Regions from separate parts of the Homo sapiens genome. Here region 2 is linked to region 1. The links come from fine-mapping of genetic effects on gene expression. Tissue or cell type: skeletal muscle. Region 1 holds a variant in brackets; the other region holds the start of a gene. All regions are shown on one strand. Distances are from middle to middle. Region 1 has its middle 220 kb from the start of ADGRL2. Region 2 holds the start of ADGRL2 (adhesion G protein-coupled receptor L2).

The links. PIP is the estimated chance that this variant, and not a neighbour inherited with it, causes the effect.
Region 2: ADGRL2 starts here. The variant in region 1 is fine-mapped to the expression of ADGRL2 in skeletal muscle (GTEx, PIP above 0.99).

Annotation. Positions count from the first base shown.
Region 1 is chr1:82,016,637-82,019,551 of GRCh38, reverse strand. No RefSeq gene overlaps it. Among named protein-coding and RNA genes, the nearest start is that of ADGRL2, 220 kb to the right of the region's middle. The variant G/A (reference allele first, on the strand shown) is at 1,105.
Region 2 is chr1:81,799,303-81,802,217 of GRCh38, reverse strand. It overlaps ADGRL2 (adhesion G protein-coupled receptor L2), which reads right to left and starts at 1,284. Exons shown (of 24, transcript NM_001366006.2): 1 at 1,150-1,284.

The sequences.
Region 1 (2,915 bases):
AGTGCTACTGTGTGCCTTGACACATAGTAGGCACTTGATAAATGCTTCTTGAATTGGCTTTCCCCAACAGAAACTGCACAAGAGCCTGAAGAAACAAGCCCCTGATCATGGTTATATTTATAACTGGTTTGATCATTTTGACGGAATTGACAAAATTGTTCAACCAAATTTCTTTTTTTAACAATATGGCTGATTGATATATTGAATTGATTAGACAAAATTCAAATGCAATTCATATTTGCAGTTTGCAACCATTAAGTGGTCTTTGGTGCGAGCCATCAAAAATATTGCTGGGCTACTCATAGCACACCCAGGTCACACCTTAGGAAATTTTTGCCTCAAGTTTTGGGGTTCTTCACTGTGTCTTTTGTAATCACTCCAAGGTGTGTGTCGGGGCTGGATTGTTATAGCAAATGGCAAACTGTGTTAATGGGAATCAGCAAGGAATTTAATTATTTTCCCAATTTCCAAAGGCATGATGTATCACATTAATACTTTTCATTTGCTTTTCCTGCATGCTAGTAGCTGAAAGTGAAATGATGTCCAGGTCCGCAGTGTGTCTGCAAAGGAGTCATAAATTACACCTCTGCACCTTTGCAATGAAAGAGCTGCTCTCTTGATGCTGCTTGTCCACACAGATCGTGGACAGAATGGCACAGTTATAAAAACAAAGTAGATAATGTATTACTCCAAACTTATTCTAGGGGTCACTTTTTAAATCAGGGGATTTTTCTTAAATCATTTCTTTTCTTCAGGGTTGATGGTTTCTGCTGACAAAATCTTCTGAGGTTGTGATTTTTTTTTATGAGCATGTTCAATAGATTTTAGGAGTAGTCTCAATACCTCTGAAATTTGGAAGACAACATACCTGCAACTTTACAATACTGTGATTGGACAAATGAACATTTAATCTTCAAAGAATACAAATCCCTGGGGTAATTCCTAATGGTATGAGACTACAGCCAGCCAGTACTTCTGTGTCACTCCCTGAGCAGTGCAGATGAGGTGCTGTCATCTGAGCTGATGATTCCCACTGTATGAGCCAACTCAACCATGTTCTTAGGATATCAGATTATGTGACCTTGGGCAAAACAAGCCCTAAAT[G/A]TAGGTTGTACAACTGGTAAGTCGTAATCTTCTATTTAGAAATGTTCTGAGAATTACTAGCCAAAATTCCGAAAGCAGTAGAAATTTATAAAAATGCAATTTTTGCCTAAATTCAAAATATTATCTTATCTATAATGTTGAGTATAAAAAGCCAGTTAAAAACAGATTTTCATTTGGGGAAGAGAAAAGGGGGAAAGAGGAAGAGCTAGAGGGCGGAATGAAGGGGAGGAAGGGGGAAGAGAACAAAGAGAAAAGAAGGAAGGTGGGGAGGAGACAAAATTGATTTAGAGGTGTTTAATTCTAGCTATTGAGATTTATATCAATTTCTTTTCTTTTTTGGCTTATTTCTGCCTATTTTCTGTATAACCGCATATGACATAAGCAAAAAAAATTTATGAAAAAATTGATCTCTATAGAAATATCCATAGTACCAGAATTCTTATCAAATCTTTTTGTCAGATCCCAAGATTTTCATTTGTTTAGTTGCTCAAAAAAAGTAGTTACTGATTTCTGTTTAATCTTTTTCATGAAAAACTGACTGGAGAGTAAATCTGAATTTTACTTTTCCACAATATTTATTTTATTAATCTATTCAGACACATCAACCTTATATATCAGATACGAATTGATAGTTCAACTGTTCTTCAAGCTATAAGAGGAATCAATGAATTCTTTCTTTTTAGGAGAGTTCAGCTCCTGGTGCCTTATGGCTACCAAAAGTCTAGGTTTTGAGTAAAATAGGAAATGTTGGCATAGCAGTCATGTTGGTTCTGTTTTTTTGTTTTATTTTGTTGTTGGGTTTTTTATTTTTGTCTTTGGTCTTTGGAGTTTGGGAGGAGTTGTTTTGTTTGTTTTTGTTTTTCATTTTTTGCTTATCTAGCTCTTTTGTTTCTCAATTAAATAACTGGAAAATGTTATGGTGACTTAAACATTAAAGTAGTGTAATAGAAAAAGAACGGAACCTATTGGTAATGGGAAACCCAGCCTCTCTTTCTGGACCTTCCCGTTTGACCACCCAGGTCTGAGTGGCCTGGGAAGGTAATTTCGTGCCTCTGATGCCTCTATTTTCTTACCAGTAAAATAGGACTGAGAGCTGCCCTTCCTACTGCTCAGGGATCTAATAAAAGAACATGGATAGTGAAAGTGCAAAATCCTGTGTACATTTAACAAGCTATATTATCACCTGATTAATTTTTGGCTTCCAATTATTAGTTTGTACAAGGCCCTATGATAAGCACTTTAGAAACATTATATCTTTTAATCCTTAAATGTGCTATAGAATTATTGTCTTTTTTTTTTTTTTAATTATAAAACTCACCAGTTTGGTTTCTGCATTACCCAAGTTCTGCTCATTTGCCACGCTGTCTAGCTGGAGTGACTACAGCAATGGCTAGATTCTGCTCCTCCCACCACGGAGCTGGGTCTCAGCACAGCAGGGTAACATCAACTCAACTCATGCTCTGGGGCTTCTCTGTTGTCACTGAGACCTAAGATGCTGCCATACCCAGGCAGATTTATATCAATTTCTTTTCTTTTTTGGCTTATTTCTGCCTATTTTCTGAATAACCATATATGACATAAGCAAAAAAAATCTTACGAAAAAATTGATCTCTATAGAATGTATATTTAATGTAAAAATCTGTATTTAATGTATTTTTCTTTCTCCTGCTCCACTTTCCATACTGTTTGGAGTCACAGGAGCTTCATTCAGCTTCTCGGAAGATATTCTGAGAAACTGAGCAGTCAGCCGATCACAAAACTCCCATAAAGTATTAGCACTTATGCTTTTGCTTCAGGTTTTGTCTTCCAGA
Region 2 (2,915 bases), 220 kb after region 1:
GCGCGCCCCGAGGGAGGGCCGTCTGGCGTGGGGGCCGCGCGGGGACAGGCGCGGAGGGCAGCGGCTACCCCGGCCGGAGAGGGCCGAGGCCGGCCGCGAGCGGGTCCTCGGCCGCCGAGTCCGCGCGGGAGGCAGCGCCGCAGCTCCCCGGCCGGACACGGCGCCGCAGCTCGGCGCGTCCTCCTGCTCGGCCGCCGCCGCCTCCAGCCGAGCAGCCAGCGCCGGGCGGCTCCTGGGGTTAAGTCAACATTTTCCCGCAGTTTCCCACACGCCGCTCTTCGAGAGAGGTCTTTCACACACACGCACACACCCCCAGACCGCACGCTCCCTTAGGAAAAAAAAATCGGGAATCAGAGCGAAAGGGGTGGTGGAAGCAAAAGCCTGACAGAGGTGCGCAGACTTGGGAGTCCCTTCGAAGCGACGGGCGGGAGGGCGCCGGGGGCGCGAGGCCAACTCAGTTTGTCAGGCGAAGCCCCTCAGCCCCCCGAGCGCCCGGCCGGAATAGCATCCCTCGCGCCGACCCTGCGGCCTGGGGCGGGAGGCGGCGGCGACCCCTCCTCACATTTCGGATCTCCCGGCCGGGGCTGAGCGGTGGCCGCTGCCCCAAGGAAGGCTGGCGGCGCAGACTCGGGCTCGGGGAAGCAAGGAGTAGCCGGGAAGAGCCACGCCACACACAGCAGCGGAGGGGAGATGCCCCCCAACAATCCCAAGGAATTCTCTGGTAAGCTCCCGATTTCGCCCCAGCACCTCTGCGTGTGTGTGAGCGGAGAGAGAGTGAGAGGGAGCGAGAGGGAGAGAGAGAGAGACGGGGGAATGCGAAGTCCTGACACAGACTCTCCGCGAGGTCTGAACTGGAGTCACCTCCAGCCTCCTCCTCCTCCTTCCCCCAAATCCGCCCTCCCCGCCAGTTGGGCTAATCATATAAACATACTAGCGTGTACAGCGTCAAAGGACAAATCTCTCCCTCCTGAGTTTTCCAGCAAGGGGCTCGGGCAAACTCAAAAGAAGATTACAGGCAGCTAAGTACAAAACGTGGAGCAGATAATCTATAACTCATTGTCGCCCAATGGCCGTTTTCCACTCCATTTGAGCAGCTGCTGCGGCTGTGCGCCCAAGCGGCGGGGAGGAGGAGCGAAAGGGGATACTTACGGGCTCGAGCCCTTCGGACGGCGGTGGCGGTGGCCAAGCAGCCGCCCGAGGACCAGGCCGGCCCCGGCTCCGCCGGCGGGGCGGCCGCAGGGCTGTCCGGGCGGCGGTGGCGGCGAGGGACGCGCGCGCACGGCCGTGGAACGCGCCCCGGAGGCGGCCTGCGCCAGCTCGCGCCCCTCCCCTTCTCTCCCCTCCCAGTCGGTTCGCGCTCCCCCTACCCCCAGGTCCCCGAGCTCTGCCTCCAGCTCCCCCCATTAACACACCCATTCAACCGCTAACCCCTAGCCCACCCCCAAACTCCACTCACTGCGCGCTGGGTCCTCCGCGCGCTCCGCCGGCGCGCGCTCTCCATCCTGTCCACACACATGCACTTTAAAAACATTTATTTTATTTCTGGAGTGGGTGAAGAGTATTTGGGAGAGCGCCGCGAAGCGCGGCGCTCCGAGGCTGAGCGCAGGGGGATGACCAGCGGCTCGGGGCCCCCTCCCCTCTAGGCCCAGGAGCTTGCTCCCGGCCTGGACTTCGGAGAGGCGCCCGGGATGCGTCTTTCACCCACCCCGTCTCCAGGTTTTCTCTTTTCTCCACGCACCGAGCCAGAGGCCCCGAAACTTTTAGTTTCCGTAGCCCTCCTTTTGTGTAACTGCATGGAGGAGAAAGAACGTCTGTTCGCCGCGGCTGCCTCCGTCCGGCTGCGGCGCGCGGGGGACGCTCCAGGGTTAATGCGTCTTTGATACCTGAGATTTCCGGCGCGCTCGTTAATGAAAGTTACATTTTTTTAAATTGCGATGATTTTTTTCTTTGTAGTTACGTAGAGCCAGCTAAACTTTGACTTTATTGACTATATTTCACAAGAGCGTTTTGTTTGTTTTTGATTAAACTCACCAGGATAAGCAAAGGAAGGAAAGGAGACTACAAGGCTCTTTACTCTCAAGTATAGTCACAGAGCTGTTAGGTCTGTTTCCCTCATTTCCTTACATTGAAACTGCCTTTGCTCTTGTCCTCTGAACACACTTCCTTGCCCCTCTCGGTTGGCAATGTCAGCAAACAGCCAGGCAGAGCCTACGATGGACCTAAGCTGAAAGGAACAGAGCAGGACAGGGCGAATCACGCTGGAAAAACGTTTAAAAGCCAGTTAAGTGTCCTGTGCATGCCACAAAATTCAAACATGGATTTTTTTTTTATTGCAAAATTTCTGAGCTGGAAGCAGCTATGTTTTCAGATGTATTTGTAAACCACTGATTCTACTAATGAATGCAGCCATCAATTAAATAAGCATATTTACCTTTTTTTCAAGAAAAAAATGATTCTCCAATATTTAAAACCTAGAAAGTAGGATAAAACTTAAGCTGCTTTGCTTTCAGAAACAATAGGTACTTTTTGGTGCTGCAGGAATGTTGCAAGCATCATACTTCAGGAATCATTCCAAACAATGTTATTAATATGTCAACAGCAGATTGTTCAAAATACATGAAGATCCTAAATACCTATCAGTATTTTGTCAGAAAGCCAGATAGGTGTAGTACTAAAGTAAATCCAATCCAACTACTGGTCAAGTTTGTTCTTGACTTGTAGGAAATCATAGGTTAAATGTACGTGTGTCCAAATAACTAGAACATGTTCTTTTGGTGGTTTCATTGTAATTCTCAGATTAAAAAAGAACCTTTGATAATCTAATTTCTTCTACCTGATGTATTGATGTTTTAATATTCTCACTATTTCAAAAGATAAAAGGAGCAACTTAGAGCATTGGTGCTTTAAACTACATA